Homo sapiens: one gene and its partners. The protein of the gene in region 3 binds, or shares a complex with, the protein of the main gene of each other region. Each region holds a gene or a part of one and is shown on either strand. Other genes may lie near its edges.

What was found.
Region 1: the proteins of EZH2 (region 3) and EED are in contact, whole or in part, in a cryo-EM structure (PDB 8VMI), measured with the Homo sapiens proteins. Residues at the interface, in NP_001190176.1 of Homo sapiens: Arg34, Glu37, Val38, Lys39, Met41, Phe42, Ser43, Asn45, Arg46, Ile49, Arg52, Thr53, Ile55, Leu56, Asn57, Glu59, Trp60, Lys61, Arg63, Arg64, Ile65, Gln66, Pro67, Val68, His69, Ile70, Leu71, Glu82, Cys83, Ser84; in NP_003788.2 of Homo sapiens: Val85, Asn86, Ser87, Leu88, Lys89, Glu90, Asp91, Trp103, His104, Ser105, Lys106, Glu107, Asp109, Pro110, Val112, Arg120, Thr122, Leu123, Tyr124, Glu125, Gln129, Gly130, Glu131, Ile132, Arg133, Leu134, Leu135, Gln136, Ser137, Tyr138.
Region 2: the proteins of EZH2 (region 3) and JARID2 are in contact, whole or in part, in a cryo-EM structure (PDB 8VNZ), measured with the Homo sapiens proteins. Residues at the interface, in NP_001190176.1 of Homo sapiens: Arg78, Ile131, Pro132, Tyr133, Asp136, Ile146, Lys156, Val157, Asp160, Arg161; in NP_004964.2 of Homo sapiens: Arg108, Pro109, Arg110, Leu111, Ala113, Gln114, Arg115, Lys116, Thr154.

Annotation. Positions count from the first base shown.
Region 1 is NC_000011.10:86,240,090-86,247,757, forward strand, and holds the start of EED (polycomb protein EED), read left to right. Parts: upstream 1-4,663; 5' UTR 4,664-5,140; coding exon 5,141-5,254; intron 5,255-7,668. UniProt on the Homo sapiens protein: Polycomb group (PcG) protein. Component of the PRC2/EED-EZH2 complex, which methylates 'Lys-9' and 'Lys-27' of histone H3, leading to transcriptional repression of the affected target gene.
Region 2 is NC_000006.12:15,241,274-15,249,073, forward strand, and holds the start of JARID2 (protein Jumonji), read left to right. Parts: upstream 1-4,795; 5' UTR 4,796-5,266; coding exon 5,267-5,311; intron 5,312-6,541; exon of another isoform or gene 6,542-6,871; intron 6,872-7,236; exon of another isoform or gene 7,237-7,423; intron 7,424-7,581; exon of another isoform or gene 7,582-7,691; intron 7,692-7,800.
Region 3 is NC_000007.14:148,825,281-148,832,299, forward strand, and holds part of EZH2 (histone-lysine N-methyltransferase EZH2), read right to left. Parts: intron 4,569-7,019; coding exon 4,448-4,568; intron 3,601-4,447; coding exon 3,460-3,600; intron 1,987-3,459; coding exon 1,884-1,986; intron 1,353-1,883; coding exon 1,174-1,352; intron 1-1,173. UniProt on the Homo sapiens protein: Polycomb group (PcG) protein. Catalytic subunit of the PRC2/EED-EZH2 complex, which methylates 'Lys-9' (H3K9me) and 'Lys-27' (H3K27me) of histone H3, leading to transcriptional repression of the affected target gene.

The DNA.
Region 1 (7,668 bases), on a different chromosome or scaffold from region 3:
TCTGTGCATTTCACTGTATATAAGTGAAATAAATACAAACAGAGTTAAAATAATGCCATTCTAATTCCTTCTGTATAAGTCTTATCAACAGGAGATACATGTTAATAGACTTGTCTTAAGAAGGTCTATAAGATCCTCCACGATCTGGCCCCTTACCTTCTTTTCTAGCCTTCTCTGTTACCACACTTTTGTCACCTTCTCTTTTCAGTCCTTCACCAGCACTGACCTTTCAGTGTACCAATGGCGTTTGTACTCTTCTCATATTCCTGCGCCAGGACTTTTGCACATGCTGTTATCACTCCCTAGAATGTTTCTCCTTCTCTTCTTAATGGGAGACTGGTTAACTCCCATTCTTCTTTTAGTTCTACTCTTCTGTCTGTTTCTCAGGGAAACCCTCCCATGTCTCACTTTATTACACACGTCCATGGAAACTTTGTCCAGCTGCTGTGTATGCCTGTGCAGCTTGTTCATCTAAACAAGGGTTCCCAGCTGAGGTGACAACTAAAACTAAAATCAAATTTGTGCTCCACTCACAAAGCCTTGCACACGGAGCAGGGTTGTATCAATCTGGAAAAGGGGGTGCCTTTTCTAATTTACCAAAGTCATTGTTTGCTTGCCAAGCTTTACCTACTCTGGGCTCTTTCTGCTATGGCCTTTTAAAAAATAGCACAAAGATACCATATGGGCTAGCAGCAGCCCTGACCTTGTACTTCCCCTTCATACCACTTACCACGGTAATTTCACATTTATTTGGTTAATGCTTGTTTCTCCTACTTGTCAATAAGCATGATGACAGCAGGAAATTGTCTGGTTTTGCTTATTGTCAAGTTTCCTCAGCACCTGGAACAGTGTTGGGCACACAGTAGGTACTCAGTAAATATATATTAAATCTATTCGTTATTTTTCTTTTTTTTTTTTTTAAGACAGAGTTTCACTCTTGTCACCCAGGCTGGAGTGCAATGGTGTGATCTCAGCTCACTGCAAACCTCAACCTCCCGGTTTCAAGCTATTCTCTCACCTCAGCCTCCCGAGTAGCAGGGATTACAGGCTCCAGCCACCACGTCAGGCTAATTTTTGTATTTTTAGTAGAGACGGGGTTTCGCCATGTTAGCCAGACTAGTCTCGAACTCTTGACCTCAGGTGATCCACCTGCCTCGGCCTCTCAAAGTGCTGGGATTACAGGCATGAACCACCACGCCCGGCCCCATTCGTTATTTCTTAACGCTGGATGAATATTAGGCTGTTTGAAGGTAGAGACTGTGTCTTATTTTCTTTTTTATTGTCCCCTCCTCCCCATTGCCCCTGGAATTATCCTACTGCTTTGCATGTAAATGGCATTCAGTAAATTCTTCCTGATTGATTTGAAAACGTTCAAATAAGCCATATGATGTTCTGTTCATAGAAAACCAGATCTGCAAGCATATGATTACACATTGCATGAATGATGATGAACAGCTGCTATTTATGAAGCAGAAGAGACAAAAATGTTGAATGAATGAGAAATAGACTCCAGTTGAAATGGGAAGGATTTAATTTAGCTTTTGAAACTCATTTCCTGATATGAAGCTTACAAGATACCAGGAGACAATGCCAAGGAACGCTGTGAATTTTCTTTTTCTATATAAGTAAATGATCTTGGAAAGTTCCAAGATGGATCAACCACTTACTTGAAGGCTAAGGGGTATTTCTTACTGAATTCTCAACAGCCAAGTATGAGATAGATATTTTAAAGTAAGTTTTTATTTTGGAATACTTTTACAGAAAATTTACTAAGAACAAAGATAGCATAGAGAGTTCCTGTATTCCCCTCATCCAGTTTCCCTCATTATTAACATCTTACATTACCATGTTACATTGGTCAAAATTAAGTAAAGACTGAAATCCGTACATTACTATAAACTATGCTATAGATTCTTTGTTTGTTTTCCCAGTTGTATCTTCTTTCTGTCCCAAGTGAGATAGCTTTTTAAAGTTCTTTGATACTTTATAAACAATTCTGTGGTCTAAAGACCAAGCTCTGTGCATAGAATTACATAAATTTAGAGCTGCCTGGGTCCCTCATCTTGAGGTAAAAGTGCTTTGGCTTTCCAATCAATTGAACACAATCTCTAGTACTGCCACTTGAACAGCTGTGTGTCTTTGGGCATACTGTTTACTTATCCTAAGTCTTAGTTTCCTCATTTGTAAAATGTGGGTAGTAAGACCTCTCCAACTGTGATGGTTCCTGAGATCTTTCACAGTAGGAGAATGCAGTGTTGAGAAACGTACAAATTTTTCTTTTTTAGAGAAGTAGGTCTCCTTATGCAGCGCAGCCTGGCTTTGATATCCCGGGCTCAAGCAATCTTCCTGCCTTAGTCTCTTGAGTAGCTGGAACTACAGGTACACATCAATGCACTCAGCAAAACTTATTTTTAATAGGTAATTAGACTTTTATGGTTATTAAATTAATACCACAAAAGTAGTACTCTGCATGGAACACCTATGACATTTTACATATCTTAAATTAGTAACAAAGACTCTCCTCTGAGCCCTCTTCTCCATCTTCCTGTCTAGCTTGCCTGGCTCAGCTGTAGCAAGAATTCTGCATCAGTTTAGAGAAAAACCCATACCCTGGATATCTGATCACCCCGGCCTTTTTTAGCACAAATTCTGTTAAGTTGGTGTAGCAAAAGTTTCCCCATTCTTGATGTCTCTTCTTAGTAATTTTCCAACCACCAACCCCTCCAACTTTGCTCCTTGACTATACATCCCCACTCCTTGCTGTAATTTGGAGTTGAGCCTGATCTCTCTCCTATTGTGATAGTCTTGACAGCTATCAAAATAGTCCTGAATTAAGTGTTCCTTACTATTTTAACAAGTGTCAGAATATTTTTCCTTTAATGTAGTGACAATAACGTAGTAATATAAACTAATTTCCATTTATCACCCCTGATTCATCAGAAACATTTTAAAAATAACCCCTTCAAGTTTTAATAAGCCTCTTTAAACTATTTTTGCTTTGTTACAGATAATATGAATGCTGTAAGGCATTTTTCTACCATATGTGTCCTTTATCCAAATGTTCAGCACTTTTCTAATTTTATGACTAGACGTTGACTCCCACTTCCCAGCTCCCACTAATCTCTCACACACGGAGTAATTTTAATTTGAAATGCTTTAGTCAATTATCCTTTACTTGTAGAACTATATTTCAGAAACGTCCTTCCCTTTGTTGGGAAAGATGTTCTTAACAAAGGGAAGGATGTTTCTGTCTGCTGATGAAAATGTCATGCCAAAGCACGTCTTACTTTGTCAGGAGCTTACTCTACTCCAGTCTCATCTCTTCTCACCAACTGAGGAGTGCTTAGTAGTGCCTGGAACATTGGAAGTACTGAACAAATGACTGCCGTCATTGAGACCTCAACTTTAATTTTTTTTCGGCTTCTTTATTTCAAAGTCTTCACTGCAGAAACCTCTCATTCTGACCTGCCTTTGCTTTACTTCCTTTTCTCATTCTCAACCAAGAGTTCTCTCTTTATCTACAAAAGAAAGAGTGACTTGCAATCTGCAGATAAGGAAACTGATGTCCTGGTTATAAAGTTATCATGCAGAAATAATTCAAGTATACTAGAATTTTATGGATGGTGCACTCTAGGTGGGTAATGAGGTCTAGAAGAGAAAAGATATACAACATCAAGCAGGTGCCCAAGAAATGGTAGGTCCCTTTCTCCCTTCCTGCCTCCTCATTTTTACAGATGAGGACATTTTTACAGAAGCCCGAATAGATAAGTAGTCACAATCATGTTCTAAGAAAAACAAAAAAAAGGTGGCGGATGCCGTATTTTATTTTTCGTCATCACTCTCCTTTTCCTGCTGCTCATTCAGTTATGGTTTCATGACCCATATAATAATTCCACAAGGCTCACCAATGTTATCTGGCACCTGCTAGAGAATAGATATAGTAACAGAGGCAAATATTTTGGTGAAGTTTAACAGTTGTGTTGCCTTCTAGAATTTCATTGTATCTGATGTGCAAAAACAAGCAAAACATTGTCGGTTAAGTATCACAATCTCATAATGGAGATGAGCACTGATTCTTAGGCCTTGGCGTAGTTCAGGGCCTATCCTTTAGCAGCTAAAAAGAGCACTTTGGCTGTAACTCATTGGAGTCTAGTCTCATAATGTTAGGATATTTCTATTTAAGTCTTAACCACTATTGGTAGCAACTGGAAGGATAATCATTCATTACAATAAATAGTCAACAGAATAAATATCCGACAAGAATTTACGAAGCGTCTAGAGTATAATTCGGTAGCGCTTTGAAATCCACCCTGGGATTCGGAAACCGGGTAGAAAACTACCTGGTTCAGCAAACGAGAATTCAAACAGAGGAGGGGCTTGGAGGAGGCGGGTTTCGACGAACCCAGCGCAAGAGTACGCCACGGCGCCTGCGCATCCCCTGACGGGTACTTTCCATTCGCCAGATGGGGGAAGCCAGGGGGAAGCAGGTTACTGTTTTTGCATTTCTATCTTCAAGGAAGAATTAGGTTATGAATAGTTCCGTGAATAGTCAGGAAGCGCTGTCCTCCAAGTTCAAGATTAAGGAAACGTGGCATGCACAGCTAAAGCAAGAGGTGACGTCTTGTATCTTCCCCCGTTTCCTGGGACATTGGTGGTGTAGCCCATTCCACAGACTTTCGCTCCCTAGCAGCGGGTCGGAGATCGAAGGAACGGGCCAATTGCGGCTGAAACGTCTTTGGAAGGAGGAAGGGGGTGAGGGAGCATCCCTTTGAGTTTCGCCTCTTCTCGAGGCGGTGGTGGGAAGGGAGACATACTTAATACTGCCCTCTTAATCCAACGGACCTTACATCGTGTAGACTGCCGGGAGGGCGGCGGGAAAAGGGCAAGACGGGAGTTGGGGAAGGGAAGGAGCCAGGAAGCCGCGCGGGAGGGCGCGCGCGCGCGCCCCTTTTTCAGCAGTGTGGCGGGGTCGCACGCACGCCCGCCTCGGCGGCTGGGCGCGATTTGCGACAGTGGGGGGGGCGGTGGAGGTGGCGGCGGCAGCGGCAACTTTGCGGCAAGCTCGGGCCGGGCTTGCTTGACGGCGGTGTGGCGGAGGCCCCGCCCCAGGCGGCAGGAACCTGGAGGGAGGCGGAGGAATATGTCCGAGAGGGAAGTGTCGACTGCGCCGGCGGGAACAGACATGCCTGCGGCCAAGAAGCAGAAGCTGAGCAGTGACGAGAACAGCAATCCAGACCTCTCTGGAGACGAGAATGTAAGTGCAGCTTCTGGCAGTTACGAGACTGCGGAGTGAAAGTTTTAAATTCTTTTAAAACGGGGGGCGCGGGGACGAGCGGGCTGCTGTGGGGGGAGGGAGAGGTGTCACTCAGGAAAACGCGGGCGTGCGGGAGAAAATTGAAATTGCCTACGGGGATTTTGATGTGGGGCCGAGAGCAAGCAGGAACTAGGCAAAGGAGAGTGGTTCTAGTGATTGCGTGGGTCTGAGAAGTCTGCCCTGAAATCAGTTTGCATGTGATGGGGAGTGTTTTGGCCTTTGGGGGGATTTAAGGGGAGAGTGCGGGTCTGAGATTCTAGTAGTTTAAAAGGCACGTTAGAGACTTTTCTAAGAAAGTTGGAAGGACGGGGCAGAGTTAGGGACCCTGTTAAAGGAGCGTAAGGGTTGTCACTCTAAGACCCTTGTGGAATTTTCAGGATGGAAAGTGATCTTCGATTTGCGGAGTTTGGGAGACTTTATTAAAGGGGGTTTTGTGTCCGCCTCCGTCCTGTCCGCGGAGACCGGGTGCGCCTGAAGGTCGCCTTTTCTGTAGGAGGAGCCGAATTGAGAGGATCGATTTTTGATTTGGGGGTGGGGAGTGACTACCTTTGAGGAAGTAAGAGTGGGTGATTTCTTCTTTGAACGTTTTTACTTAAGATAAAGGTGAGGGGGGTGGCGACCTGGAAGATTTTGGGCAACAGTGGTATAGGCAGATGTATTTAAGTGTGGGTTCCTGGCTTCGCCAAGTGCGCGATGTTTTGCAATCAGATTTTTTTAAGCTCTGAAATGGGTATTCGTAATCATTCGGTACCAACATTTAACCCAACTGAGTTTTAATTGACTCGCCAGTAAGAGCCGAATTGACATAAATAAGTTTTCAGTTTCATGTTTTAGGTTGATAACCAGTAAGGTCAACGAAGTATCTTGACAATTTATTCAAAGATACTACTCCAAAATGTGATTCTCCTTCTCATGATATATAACAACTTGTGAATATCTTTTAAAAAATCCTTAAAATGTTTCAGAAGAGTGGCGTAAGTTCTTCATTTTCTCAGTTTGGCTAGTTTTAGGAATAAATGTTACATCTTCTACACGCAGTTTCTAAATTCTGTCATAATTCCTAGCTGAAACATATAATGATGTCATGACTAAGATTTTCACGGAAAAGATGGGAAAGGATTCTTTTTGCAGAGACAAGATAGATATTCTTGGGATTGTCAGTTTGTGGGATCTTAGACTTCAAATTTCAGAAAAGCTTGGGTGTTAAGTGTTACTTTTGTATTTTTCACCCGATTGTGCGCCCCAATCTCACTGTACATTGGGATCTAACATTTTTTACCCTCTTCTTTTTATTATTTGAAGACCGTTCATTTTATTTCTGCGTTTTCTTAAATTTCTCTAGGCAGATTAGAGTATTAAGAGCACAGATGCTGGATCCAAGTGATAGGTTAAAATTTCTGTTCTATTAGCTTGACCTCGAGCAAGAGACTGACATAATTGTCTTAGTTTCTTAAAAATGAGGATGGTGGTGTATGGTATTTACCTCATAGAGTATTTGTAAGCATTAAATGAGTTAATATAGCTAAAGTACTAAGAAGAGTGTCTGCCCCATAGTAAGTACTATACACATGTTATTTATTTATAATAATTACTACTACTAATTTTATGATTACATAGAATAATGTTTCTGGCTCTTCCACATACTTAATAATCAGGCAAAATATAATGAAACTGTCAGACCTGTTTAGAATGAAGAAACTTGCAAAGGACAAAATAAAGCTTATTTTCTTCTTGCAGACCCTTACAGGAAAACATATTCTTTGCTGCAATTTTAAAGCTGTTCAAGACCAAATGATTGGATTAGTTTTGTTTTGGTTCCTCCATTTGGATAGCCTTAATTTTGTGTGTGTGCGTGCGCATGCCTTGGAAGCCTTAATCTTGTAGAGTCTTCTCAAAATAACATTTTTAGATGTATGAAATACAGGATATGAGGTTACAAACAAATTCAATTATAAAATTGTACACCATGTTATAAAATATTTCTAAAACAAATTTTAGATGTAGTCCTATACTATATGTACTTTATTAGCACATTAAGTAACAAGATCTAGCAGCGGGTCTGATAGTAGTGATGGGTATAAACACTTTTTCGAAGTGTAATATAAAAATACTTGATTTCCATTGGTGGCAGAGTCACAACTTCAGTAACATTAAGCATGTGTTACCTAGATAATAATAGAAGGAAGTGCTAAATTTTAAAGGTGGCAAAAATTAAGATGCAATTTTTTTTCCCCATTTGAGTTCACAAGCCTTCTGAATTTCATCCATGTACCCCTGACTTAGGGGCAGTAGTAAGGTAAGGGAGTAGAGAACATTGTATAAAAATGAGTTTAGAAAAGATAAGGGCAATAGTT
Region 2 (7,800 bases), on a different chromosome or scaffold from region 3:
ATTTATTTCATCGAAGAATTATTTTCTTTTCAGTCCCACCTAGTAACATTTCATGGAATCATATGTCTTGAATCCCATTTTGGAAAACCAGGGAGGTGGCCTGCACTGGGTATGTGGAGCCGAGAGTCCTGAGTTTGACCCTTGGCTCATCCACTCAACTGGTTGTATGACTTTGAGCAAATCACAACCTCTTAATATTTCATTTTCACATTTGAAGAGTGAGGACAGTAATACCTGTCTTGATCTAAGTTGTTTTATGGTTTAAATGAAATTATTATGACAGTGTGCTTTAAACACTATTAAAGTTATACAAATGAAAGCTATCATTAGATAGCTCGGATAAATATGAGGTCTTTTTGGAAATTAATAACATACAAGTGTAAAGAAACTTAACCTAGCAACTTTTACTGAATGATTGTGGATTTGAGTTTACTTAGGGGCCAGCACTGAGGGGGAAAAGCAGCATAATACAAAGGTAAAGGTAGGACTAGAGAATGTTGGGTGTAGAAATGTCTTTGGGAAATAACTGAATTTAACCCTCTAATTTTTAATTTTATGTTTGTAGAGATGGTGTCTGGCTATGTTACCCAGGCTGGTCTTGAGCTCTTGGGCTCAAGCAATCCTTCCGCTTTGGCTTTCCAAAGTGCTAGGATTAGAGGTGTGAACCACCACACCCAGCCTAACCTGCTCATTTTATAAATGACAGACCCAAGGCCTATATGAGGCAGGTGAATGGCATATGGTCACTCAGAGACTTAATATTAGAAACATCTGATTCCCTCATTGCCAATGGCTGCCTCAATATGAGACAAATCATGGCCCCATCCAATTTTCAATTAAGAGATACAAGATACTTACATGACATAATCAGAAAAAAATACAACAGAGAACAATTTTTTTTTGTTTGTTTTTGACAGGGTCTTTCTCTGTCACCCAGGTTGGAGTGTAATGGTGCAATGTCAGCTCACTGCAACCTCAGCCTCCCGCTCAAGCCATCCTCCCACCTAAGCCTCCCAAGTAACTGGGACTACAGGTGCACACTACCATGCCTGGGCCACCACGTCCAGCTAATTTTTTTTTTTTTTTTGGTAGAGATAGGGTTTCACCATGTTACCCAGGCTGGTCTCAAACTCCAGAGCTCAAGTGATCCTTTTGCCTCGGCCTTCCAAAGTGCTGGGATTACAGATGTGAGTCACCACATTCGGCCTCAGAATAAAATTTTAAAGCTCAAAAATTATTGCCAAAATAGGAAGGGCAATGAGAATCCAGGAATGAGTAGGCCAAGCAGCGAGGCTGGATTGGAAATGGGCCTGAATTTGGGGCCTTGAAGAACGTATAACACTACATTGGATTTAGATAATGCAAGAGGAAAACTAGCAGAGTTCCAGAATGGAATGGAAGATGATGGTAGGAGACTAAATGTTGGGCAATAGTCTAAATAGTTGGGCATTATAGTTTTGGTGAAATATTCAACAGTAAGCATTTACTGGACATCTTTCAAATTTGATGAAGTTTTTGGAGCTTTGGAGGGTATGAGAAGTAGACAACATCATCTCTTTAGGGAATTTCCTTTTTACTTGGAGAGAAGAACTAGAAACATTAAAAGTGGAGAATGTAAACAAATAGGATGCAATGCAAAGGGGTGAAATATGCACTTCTTTAAGTATGTATGTGAACCCCTACACCTACTTCAAAACTCCTTAACACCTAGTCATCTCAGCAATGTGTTCTTTTTAGCTTCTTTTCTACATTGCTGATATAGTACTTTTTGGAGGTATCACAATCCATTGTAAACTCTGCCTTTTTTTTTTTTTTTTTTTTACTGAGCTGTGAGCTTCCTGTGTCCTCAGGGATGAGGACAGTGCTGGCATAGAGTCTAATACAATCAATGTACCTAGACATGTTCTCATCCCTGCCCCTCCAATTGAAGAGGTCAAGGCTTTGAGATGTGAAAATCATCATAAGAAAAGCTGCATTTGACTTACAGAAAATGAAAAAGAGGAGGAAGGAGCAAGAAAAGCCTTGGATGGTCTTGCCAAGATGGTAGGGGAAGGAAGTTCATTAGGAGTAGGTTACTTTCACAACAGGAAAATCTTTCAACCACTAAGAAGGCCAACCTTTTTTCTCTTTCAGGGAAAACAACACTAATATTATTCAAATCTTTTGGAAATGAGCAAATTCCTTCCTTTCCCCTCTGCCCTGAGGCCTCAACTTTACACAATAGTTTTTCACACCAGGTGACCTGGAGCTGGTAGCCTGGCAGGGGAGTTCGCAAGCCCAGGACTGAGAAGTCCAGGCCCCAGGGCTAGTTAGGGGAACAGAAAAGAAACTCACCTTTGTTCATTAATATTTGCCTAGGGAATGAGGTATCTGCGTTAAACTTACAGAAAGCTGGTTAAAATCTTAACAACGTGGAGACGTGGAGATTCCCAGTATGCCAGTCCTAATGATCAGAAAGTTTTTAGAAAACACCTTGGGTGGCCCTACTGTAGTCTGCCCCATTGGATCCTTCCCAGGAAATGGCACCAGCGTACAAGTTTTGCAGTATTCAGGGCACAAAAGATCATTTATTTTTCCAATTGTGAAGTGAACATTAGATAAAATTATTTCATTTCAGATTTTTTGAAAAGGTAAAAATAATAAGGAAAATACCCTCTCGAAAAGGCTTTTTATTTCGTTTACTGAAAGCTTCCAATAACGTGCCTAGTTTTAAACTAGGTTACTGTTATTTATCACATAATCATCCCCACAGGTTTGATCACCACTAATTTGCAGATGCGGAAACTGACAAGCTCAGAGAGGCTCTCGGTTGCCTTTTGGGAAGTGGCCAAGGCGCGATTTGAATCCAGGTCTCTTACCTCCAGTTTCTGAGACCTTTCTAGACACCAAGGTTATCTCTTCAAATACTGCTGCAAGTAAACAGCTGTGTGAGTATCTAGACTTTTGAAGTTAGCAGACTCTAGGGAATAGGTAGAATAAAATATATGGGTATGTGTTCGCGGGAGCGCTTCTGCCACGTTTTATTCCGAGGCTAGCCTGAGAGATCATGGAAAACATTGCTTCTCCAAAACCACAGCGAAAAACAAGGAAATTAACAAGGCAGAATCGCGATGCGAGACTTGACAAAGTTGTTAATAAGGCGAAGGCCCAAAGCGCTATGCCAGGGCCTGCTACTTCATTTGTTTCAGCGATTAAACCAGCACGACAGGGGGCTGGAGGCAGGTAAAAAGCAGGCTCTTGCGTGGCCCGGACAGTTGATATTCCTGGCACTCGGTGTTCGAGATGTTTCCTTACAATTGCGTGTCTGTGCGGCTCGGTCTCCATATTCCACTCATTTTTGTCTCAACATTTTGTGGTATTTTATCACAAAATACGCCCGGCAAAGCAAAGATCCCGTTCAGTCTCTTTAAACACGGCTATCTTTTCTCAGGAGGCAGCCGCCGGGGCTTCACTCCTGGGCCACCAGCGACGTCCTCCAAGCGGGTCGAGCGGAGGCGCGTTCGCGACCCAGGGGCAGCGTGCCGAGCCCGGGCGTGGGGGGGCGTGGCCTTTCCACTCGGCGACCCCCGGCCACCGCCCACCCCGCGCGTGGGGGCGTGCGCGACTGCGGGGCGCGGAGAGGGGTGACCTCGGACTACCCTAGGCGCCCGCAGCACGCTCTGTACACAGACGCGAGGCGCTGTCCTGAGGTGACACCGGCTGCACGGCACAAGCAGCAGGCGCCGCCGATCAACTAGTTCGCACCGAGGATTCCTCTTGGTGCGTGGCCCAGTTTTCCTTAGGACGGGCTCCAACCCCTCCCTGACACCGCCCCCCTCACCGCCACGCTCCGAGGCCTTCCCCGGGGAAGCCTCGCGTCCCTCCCCCGCGGCTCCGGGCCGCACGCGCGCGATTCCTCGATTCCACAGGCGGTTCGCGCCGCGGGTGGGGGCGGGGCGCGCGGGGAGGGGGCTGGCGGCCGCCAGGGGAGGGGGGCCGGGGCCCGGGGGGCGGAGGAGGGCCGGCGTGGGGAGTTCCTCGCTCGCGGACCACACGCTCCGCGGGCCAATCCCGAGCCAGCCTCTAGCAGTGTCGCACGCGGGACACGTCCAAGCGTTTGTTGGCACGGCCAGTGAGGGGGAGGGGGCGAGGAGGAGGGAGGGGAGTTGAGTGACAGGCTTTGCGGGGCAGGCTGGGAATTGTAGTTCCCAGCTTCCGTGGCCATAGCCATTTTGTAGTCGGGGGACTACAACTTCCAGAAGATCAAGGGGACCATTCTAAGGTGCCCCGGGAATAGGCGGCTCTCCCCGGGGCCGGGCGTCCTGGGGCACTCCTACCCAGCAGCCCGGCTGCAGGTAGACGCGAAGGCAGTGGCGGGGGCTGGCGTGGGGCGGCCGTGGGGTGAGCGGCAGGCAGGGGAAAGGGGGTGAGGTGGAGCGACGGAGCGTGCCATGCATTGAGCTAGGGAGCCTCTCTCAATTCCACGCCTGGGCTCGGCGTGGGAGCGACGCCCGAGGGCTTGCCTGGGAGGGGTTCGTCGAGGTCGCTCGGGTGTCTGGTTGGCCAGGCTGCGGGGGTGCCCTGGACTGGGCCAGGGGCGGTCGGCACCAGGCTAAGCGGGCGCCTGGCGGCTGAGCGGTGGGAGTTTTCGGCTGGCGCCCGGCGGGGAATTATCCGAGGAGCCCTAACTTGTATAAAAGCAGAGTCCATTTAAAGTTGGGCTGGATAGCCTCTCTCTCATTGGTTAGGGGGCTTGGAAAAAAGAGACTCGGCGAGCCCTCGCTGTGGTGCTGCCGCCGCCGCCGCCGCCGCCGCTGGAGTTGACTCTTCTGCTCGCACTGCTGCTGCAGCACAAACGTGACTTCCAACATTTTTTATTTATCTTTCCCTTTTCTTTTCCAAGATGTAACTACGGATCAGACACTAAGGACCTTCACGTTTCGCTGATGTAGTTTTTGGAGGAAAAAGGGGGGGGAGTGAAGGGCGTCGGTTTTTTTTTGTGTGTGTGTGTATGTGTTTCGGGGGAAATTTTCCATTATGAGTGTTTTACTAAAGTGAATTTTTTTTTGTTTGCTTCGTTCGTCTTTGGCTCTTTTTTTTTCCTTCCCAATTTCGGATTTATTTCAAGGCGAATCTGGCTTTGGGGGAAGAGGAAGAAAAGTCGGATTACAAGATCAACCACCACCAACAACAATAAAAACCACCAGGATATTTTTTTGCAAATTTCTGACGGCTTTAAATTCATGAAGCAATTGTCCCCTTTTGCAATCAGCATTTGGATCTCAGAATGAGCAAGGAAAGACCCAAGAGGAATATCATTCAGAAGAAATACGTAAGTGCTCCTAACAACACATCCTTTGACTTGCAGTTTTAAGCAATGGCTGTGAATGTCAAGTTTATAGATAATTCTGCCTCTGAAGGGTTTTAAACACAGCGTCCGATAAGGCTGTTTCTTTTTTTTCTGAAAGAGGGCTTTTCAAGCAAAGTGGTGTCTGCCTAGTTTGGTTGAAAAAACAGACTGGTGTAGAGATACCTCAAGTGAATAAATTGACCTCGAATGACACAACCATAATCTACTTTTAGATGAAAGGCAAGGGATTTTGGTGGAGCTTGAGGTGGGGGGTGGCTGCGGTAATGTAACTAAACTGCATTCTCAAGCGGATTTGGCCCCGTATTGCACTTTGCATGCAAATGAGCCTGTGTTATTATTATTAATGTTATTTGGAAAAATCGTGTAACGCATGTGTGTTGGAAGCCCTTTAAGTTGCGATCGAGGGTCCGATTATGGCGATCTTCTCTTTGCACTGGCACATCAAATTTAATGTCTGTGGTCGTTTTGGCTTATCTGGTTTGCAACATAAACCAGTTGGGAATCATGTTACAGCGAATGCATTTGTTGGGATTGACTTTAATAATGAGGCTGGTTTTGTTTAAAAAATTCATGGTTTCCAGTTGTAGGGGAAAAGGACACACACTATGGCTAATGTTTTTAAGTGTGTACGTGAATGCATATGTAAGTAACTACAAATAATTTCTCCCTGTTAACTGGGCTTCTGAAATTGGGTGATTATTCCTAGATTTAAATGGCTTGGAATAGTTAAATTTGTTTTGTGCATAGTACAGCTACGTTTTGATTGGCATGGGGAGTGTTTTTGTTTTGTGTGTGGTGGCTTTTTTTTTTTTTTAAGTTTGAGGGGAGGGAGGAAAGGGGGACCGAGGGATTAACCAAATATGCACTCGAGTGATCTGTGATTAGCTGCATGCTTTAAATTAAATAACTCTTTTTTTTTTTCAAAAAAGGCCAAATGAACATACCTTAGGAATAATGCAACGTAAGAGGAAAGTTTATTTAAGTTGGGTAGACAAATTGGTGTTAATATTTTCCCTTTTTGATCATTGTGGTGTGTGTAATGAGAGATGACCTTCGGGGCACTGGTTTTGTAAAAAAATATATTTAATGGAAAAGCTGAATGCCTCTTCAAGAGAGCTGATCCTTATCTAGACACGTCAACTTCAACTATGAAAGAAATGCAAGGTTAAATAATCAAGCCCAACTTAGAAAGCTGTTCCATAAAGAATTTAAGAATTAAAATACATCCGCATTGCAGAGGGCTGGGTAGAATGCAAAGGACTAGTTTAAACTCGGGCTGTAGAAACTGCACTGAGGCAACCTTGTCTTGGAGCGTGGACGCCTTCCCGGGGCACGTCCGTTTCGGATGCAGCCACAAAGCAAATGGGGTAGAACTTGGACGAGAACCGCACCCCGCCTCCCATTCCGGACCTCGTTGAGGTGGAGAGCAGCGTGGGGTGGGTTTTCTTTCTTATTGCGGGCGTTCAGCGGATCGTGTCTCCGAGTCCGGGCGTCCGGCTGCAAGCCCGTGGCTGGCGGCGGCTGCGGGAGGCACGGCACGAGTTAATGCACCGGGAGCAGAGCCGGTGTTCCCGACGTCCTCGAGCCGGCTGCGAAAGGGACGGCCCGCGGGGGTCGCGGCAGGCTGGGCCGGGGCTGGGCGGGCGGGCGCGCGCGCGCGGCCTATAGGGGGCATACTCCGGGCTCTAGGCGGGCGCGCGAGGCGGGCACCGGTCTACCCGGGCCGGCTTGCAGGCGGGCAGGAGGGCGGGTGGGGCGCGGGGGTGGCGCGGCCTGCGGGGCGCGGGGAGGGGAGAGCGCGCGGGGAGGGGGTGGGAGCGGGGGCGGGGGCGTGGGCGTGCCGGGGAGGGGGCGCGCGGCGCACAGCTGCAGCGGGCGCCCCCCACCGCGCACACGGCCGAGCATGGCGGCGGCGGCCCGGCCGGCTTCCCGCGGCCCTGCCTGCGGGCTCCGACGCAGTCTCGAGAGCAACAGGTTAAGCCGGCGAGACGTCAGCGCGCCCCCTCTCCGCCCCCCGGTTCTTCCCCCGCCGCGCGCCGGCGCCCCAGCCCTTCTTCCCTCCCTCCGCCCCCCGCGGCGCTCGGTTCCCCGACGCTCCCGGCCGCACTCTGTTGTCATTGTGACGTCACAAAGGGACGGGCTCGGGTGGAACCTTCCCCTCCTCCTCCGTGACGTCAAAAGTCGGGCGGGAGGCTCCAGGCGCGGCGGGGCGGCGGGGGGAGGAGGGAGCTGGGCGGGGGCGGGGGCTGCCGCAGAGCCGGGCTGCGGCGTGGGAGGAGGAAGAGGAGGAAGATGCGCTCGGCCTCTGCCTTCCGCTCCGGAGCGTCGCGCTTCCCACCAGGTGAGGGCCGGGGAGCCGTAGGTCCCCAAAGGAGTGCCACTGGACCCTGTTCTGATGCCACTTGGGAAGCGGGGAGCGGGGAGGAGGCGCCTCCTTTCTGCAGGAATGT
Region 3 (7,019 bases):
TGGCTGAAGCAACAAATGGATGACTTACTACGAATTTTTAAAACTACCAAATCAATTTAAACTAGATGAGGAGTTAGAACAAGAGCAAGGAGGTAACAATATAATGATAATTCTAAAAATCTACTTCAAGTTTTTCTATTTTAAGATAACTAAACCACTAATATGTCACACACAAAAACAAAACTTAACATTTCCAGACCAATGTATTACATCACTCAACACATTATTAGCTGCAGCAAAAACAAGTAGAGCAAACACTTAGGAGGAGGTGAGGTACAGCTGCTTGGGCAAGCTTAAAAAGACGTTATCATTGGTGAACGAGGAGGAATAAATCTGTCAATGGTAGGCACAGGAACTCAAAACAACAAAGCAATGTGGGGCCGTTGAGTACAGGGGAAAACGATTTTACAATGGGTCAAAGCCCCTAAAGAAATTACCATGCCATAGACAGACGTACTAAAATACAATATAGGAAAAACCAAACTATAATAAGCAAACTACTCTAGGAAAATTAGGAAGTATTAAATACATTTTCAAAATATGTGCCTCAAAAGTAGTTGACGCTTTTAAACTGTGCTTAGAAGTTTCAATTACCAGGAAAATTTACTAAGAAACCACATTCCCTAGAAATGCCAGAGGAAAAAAGTATTTTTGTATATACCATACTTACATTTTCACTAAGAACATTTTACGTTTTACTTGTATTCAAATGCAGGTATTTTTAAAAAACAACTTACCCAGAGGGCAAAAAAATAAAATAAAATAAAATAAAATTACATTAAATCGACAAGCACTTACCTGAACATTTTTTTGGCCAATTTCTTATTTAACACAATTTATTCATCAATATCAGCAATGTTGCTCTGGGCTACCAGTTCATAATAATAGTTTTATTGTAAAACAACTGCTTAGTTAGCACTTACGGGGGAAAAAAAAAAAAATCACTGACCTGAATTCCATGTTAGTGGAAAATAGTAGTCCAAATGAAATACATGCAAAAGATTTCAGAGCAATCCTCAAGCAACAAAGTAAAAATAATAATACTGAGATCTAAAGATATTTGTCAAAGTAACTACAAGATTAAATGATAAATTCTAGTTGTAATAAATGATAGCACTCTCCAAGCTGCTTTAAAACATAATTCCACAACAAAGATAGAAAATGAAAACGTACAATAATTGCACTTACGATGTAGGAAGCAGTCATATTTAAAACATCGCCTACAGAAAAGCGTATGAAAGGAGTGTAAGCTTTGCTCTCTCTGAACAGATTTAGCATTTGGTCCATCTATGTTGGGGGTACATTCAGGAGGAAGTGCGCCTGGGAGCTGCTGTTCGGTGAGTTCTTTATATCTGACATTAACCAAGAAAAATTTAAGTAAACATGAAACAAAAATCACTTTTTTGAAAACAGTTTCTAAAAGGTTTCCATGTGTTACTTTTGATGTTTATCTTGCCTAAAACATAAAGGAATGGCTCTATTTAGATAAAGAGCCAACTAAATATTGTGCATGGTGTTATCAAGAATCAAATTCATCGATATGATTCAAATATATCATGGAAAAGGATATTATATTAGTTTTAACTAAACATCAAATTTCTACCAGTATCCAGATAATTTTCCTGTAAATGTACTACTGTAAATTTTATGTATATGTGTGTGTTTATGTGTATATATAAATTATACATATGTATTTATTCTATCTACAGGAAATATTTTGTAATGCAGAGTACCACAAGTACACATGTTGCTTCAAGTATCTTGCAAACACTGTAAACAAAGTGTAGTGGCTCATCCGCTACATTGATTCCATTTGTAATAAACCAAAATGGTGAGTTACATACCATACAGGGCAAGATTGCCTCAAAGGAACAAATTCTTACTTTTCCTTTAGTTCTTCTGCTGTGCCCTTATCTGGAAACATTGAGGAAATGGCTTCAAAAATTTTATCAGAAGGAAATTTCCGAGGTGGGCGGCTTTCTTTATCTAAACAGGAGAATATGAAAGGAAAAAAAGAATGGAAGTAAACAAGTTTTTGATCTTTCATTTTCTCTACCCAATTATGTCTCTATAACAAAGCTGATTTTCTAAGAAATCATCTCTATTTTGTGTTTTACTTACTTCTCACATACTTTACATGTCTGTGGAATGCCAGTCAGTCAAAAACAAAATTCAAATTCAAATATGAAAAGCTTTAAGAGCACTGGGAAGCAGAAAACCTAGGTTCTACTCCCAGCTCTGCTACTAACTGATTTTGTGACTTAGAGTGATCACTTTACCTCTTGGGTCTGTTTACTCATCTGTAAAATGAAGGAGCTGAACTAGATGATCAATAAGGTCAATAAGGTACCTTTTTGTTATTTTCTCTTTTTTGAAATACGCTTCTTAGAAATTGCTATTTCACCCGCCAAATTATTCTATTCTATGCTGCCTTAGCATGAGCTTTGCCAAGTAGAGAACACCAACTATTGACTCTGTTTCTTCCCAATAGTGTAATCTTATAAGTTACTTAACCTCTCTAAATCTATCCCCTCAAATAGAAAATGGATCTGACAGGTGGGGCGCAGTGGCTCACGCCTGTAATCCTAGCACTTTGGGAGGCCGAGGCAGGTGGATCACGAGGTCAGGAGATAGAGACCATCCTGGCTAACACGGTGAAACCCCGTCTCTACTAAAAAATACAAAAAATTAGCTGGGTGTGGTGGCAGGTGCCTATAGTCCCAGCTACTCGGGAGGCTGAGGCAGGAGAATGGCGTGAACCCAGGAGGCGAAGCTTGCAGTAAGCTGAGATGGGGCCACTGTACTCTAGCCTGGGCGACAGAGCGAGACTCCGTCTCGAAAAAGAAAATGGATCTGATAATAACATCCATCTCATGAAGCCATTATGAGGATTAAGTGAGCTGGTGCATAAGAAGTGATTAGTACACAACTTGTACACGGTGAATATCAATGTTATATATTATAATGATGCCCAGTGAAGCACACAAAAAATTACGTTCTTTGCTAGCCAAAGGAAACAAAGATACTCAAGTGAAGATAATGTTGCAAGTATTATGCTTTTTTTTTTCTTTTTTAAGGCAAGGTCTCACTCTGTCACCCAGCCAGACTGTGCAGTGGCACAATCACAGCTCAATGCAGCCTACACCTCCTGGGCTCAAGCAATCACCCTGTCTCATTTTTTTACTTTTTAGTAGAGATGGGGTCTCACTATGTTGCCCAGGTTGGTCTTGAACTCCTGGGCTCAAGCAATCTGCCCACCTTAGCCTCCCAAGTGCTAGGATTACAGAGTTAGCCACCCTACCTGGCCATAATATGTTAATTTTGATTATACTGCTATCAATGTGATATTTAACAAAGAAAGAAAAAGAGAAAGAAGAAACTAAGCCCTATTTCTACTCTTTCTACTGTTTTTGAAAGAAAGCTGTAATGGCTACACAGAATCCTAATAATCAGGCATACCATCTCGGTGATCCTCCAGATCTTTCTGCTTTTCTTCTCTTTCTTCAGGATCGTCTCCATCATCATCATCGTCATCATCATTATATTGACCAAGGGCATTCACCAACTCCACAAAAATTTCATCATTTATAAACCCACATTCTGAAACGCATCAAATGTCAGAAACACACAGGAGAAGCAATAATGTCAAAAGTTTATGTATCCTTTTTCTACTTGGACAAAACAGGCATAGCCTAGTAACTGGCACTAAAACATTATTATTGAAATGAGGGGAGGAAAAGATAAGATCATTTTCAGGACTGGTGTTAGGCAAAGGAAGCAAACTTATCTTTAATACCTGCTACTTTCTGTAGAATGGCCCCTCCCCAAAACTTTCTAGTAGAAAACTGAATCTTCTAGGAACTGATTGTGGCTTTGGCCTCCTCCCAAACAATGGATCTGTCCTTTAACTGATCATTTCAGACCCTGCTTTCTGCTGATAATGACAATGGATGATGATATTACAAATATTATCCTTTCAGACACTTTAACAGGGCCTCCTGGACACAAAAAACTGAAACCATGACTCTAAGGATTGAATTTCAGGTACTGTAGTCCCTAGAGGAGCGGTATTTTTTAGTAGTAGGGGCTGTTGGAGCCCCTATATGCCACAGAAGCAGAGCCCCAATCCTAATTAATTTTACTACTAAAGAATCTTAAAATCTACATACACTCAAGTTCTATTTAATTTACATGTTATTGCCATTATGTTATAACCAACTATGCATAATTATCAGGTGGCAAACATGATCCTCCTAACTAATTTTCCCAAAAATAGTTAGGGAAAATACTGAAAATCTTAGGCCTGGGCCCAGGTTCAGTCCCTTATAGTTCAGTGCAAAACTTAATTTTAATATTAAAATTTTTCTCATGCCCTATATGCTTCATAAACAAAAGTGTCTCTCAATTCTTTAGCCCCTTTTTCCAAGAGAAGAAGCATATGGCTCACCTCTATCCCCGTGTACTTTCCCATCATAATTTTTTATTAGTTCTTCAATGAAAGTACCATCCTGATCTAAAACTTCATCTCCCATATAAGGAATGTTATGTAAAACAGTTTCATCTTCCACCTAAAAGAAAAAAATATATTTAAAAAGCAGGTTTACTCTAAGTATCAAATGTGAAATAACTAAAATACAACCTTTTTTTCATGTGTACATGTCTTTACCCAGTTCTCCAGATTTAAAATACTAGTCAGAGAGCAAACTCTAAAATTTATCAAAAAATAAAAGACCCCTCTCACCAATAAGCATATCTGAGAAAACTGTTGACAGAAAAAAAATTTAATTCTAGAAAAAATAATGCACTTAGTCTGTCATCAATCATTAAAACTTACCACCATTATTGTACATACCTCTAAGAAAGAAAAAGATGCTCTAGATTATGAGAAGACATCGTCTGTTTTTCTGTTTTTGTTTTTTAATTGAGACGAGTGTCTCACTATGCTGCCCAGGCTGGTCTCGAACTCCTGAGCTCAAGTGATCCACCCGCCTTGGCTCCCAAAGTGCTGGGATAACAGGTGTCTGACACCATGAGCCACCATGCCCAGCCATCATCAGTTTTAACGCGCACTTTAGATGTTAATAGAGGATGATGAAATATGGTGTATCAAGATCAACTATAAAGACCCATACCAAAAAACTACCCTAAGACTCCCAAACTCCACTTGATGATCCAGTTATTAAAACAGCCATTAACTTGTAATAGTTTAAGGTAAAATGAAAAAAAAATGTAAGACATCCAATATAATAAAATTCTAGGGATACAGAGTATTGATAGTCCATTAAAGTTTATGCCAAAAGGATATGTACTTATATGTAAAATAAGAACATTCTACAAAAACATAAAATATTTCAATATTTAGATGAATGAGATGAATATCAAAGTTGACAGTGCTAGTAAAGATGATAGATGAGTTTTTATCAAGCTTTGGAAGACAACAGAGAAGAAAGAAGAATAGCCAATCAAACAAAAGTTAAGACAGAATAGAATAGTTAAGCATACAAGGTAAAGAAAGTTGACATTCATAGGAGGAAGAGCATTTTCAATGAAGAATAAAAATGACAGCAGTTATAGATAAAGACTGGACAGTTCTGAAGTACATGTTTAAAGAGACTAATTCCAAGTGAAGACAAGTCTAAGTCTTAAGAGGCCTTTGAAAAGAGTATTGGTTGAAAACAGAATTTTAGAAAGATAATTATAATAAGCAGAATGGACTGGCTATGCCTGACTGGGAGGACACAGAAGCTCTTTAAAGGGTGAGATGGCGTAGGCTCGGCCCAGCACTATGATCATGGCCCACAGGTAAGAACACGCTGGGAAAGGCCACACACAGGACTAGTAGCAGCCAGGGAATGTGGAAAAAATCTCAAATAATCCCTAGGTAACAAATTTAGGACAACTGGAGAGTTCATAAAGATAACAAGTACCGTAGACAGACAAGGAAAAGAAAAAGTGGGATAAAAGGAGCATATAATTAAAATGCAGGTTTTAATGTATTCATATATTCAAATTCAAGCTTATGTACACACTAGAGGCCTGTTTTCATCTCATTTCACTTGCACTAATCTCATTTAAACTAGGGGTTGATTTCTTTCTATCTAAGCCAAAATCAAGTGACACTTAGATATTTTGTCTTTTCAATCATATCCACATCATCCTGCTCTCCAAAACGTATCTTAGTTACAATAAAGATTGTGTGCCTAATCTGCTTTGGTCAGCAAAATCAGACAGGGTCTGGCTCTGTCACCCAGGCTAGACCAGCAAAATCCATGGGTGATTCATAAATTAATGACAAATTTAAATAATATATTCTTCCAGAATTTCAGTCTGTGAAAACATGAAACTTCCCTCAAGGTCATGCAATGTAATTCTCAAACTACACTCAAATTTATACAACTACAGAAGAGTAACTGAAGTTGAGACTCTACTGTACAAAGTATAAAAGTTACTAAAAACTTCCCCAAAGCAGGTTCACCAAGGACTTCTATCAACATTTTATTAGCCTTCCCACTTTATATATCAATTAAGTAATACAACTATATATTTTTTATTTAGCAATACAAGTCAAGAACACATGCTTCAGTTTCTCTTTAGCATTTTATTACAAAAGCTGCTGCGTCAGAGTTAGCAATGGAACTATGTTTCAGCTCATGTTTCACAAGCCCTATGAATTTTACACCATAATGTACATTATCACAATAAAATGCTACCTAAAGTTGTTTTAAATAATAAGTTCTCAATTAACAAAAACTCAAAGTCAGACTTAGATTACAGGACACTGACTTTTTTAAGGATAAGAACTATAAGCTTCATTCCTTTTGTTTTTTTCAGACAGGGTCTGGCTGTCACCCAAGCTAGAGTACAATGGCACAATCTCAGCTCACTACAACCTCCGCCTCCCTCAAGCCATCCTTCCACCTCAGCCTCCTGAGTAGCTTGGGACTACAGACATGCGCCACACCCAGCTAACTTTTGTTTTGAGGACACAGCGTTTTGCCATATTGCCCAGGTGGATCTCC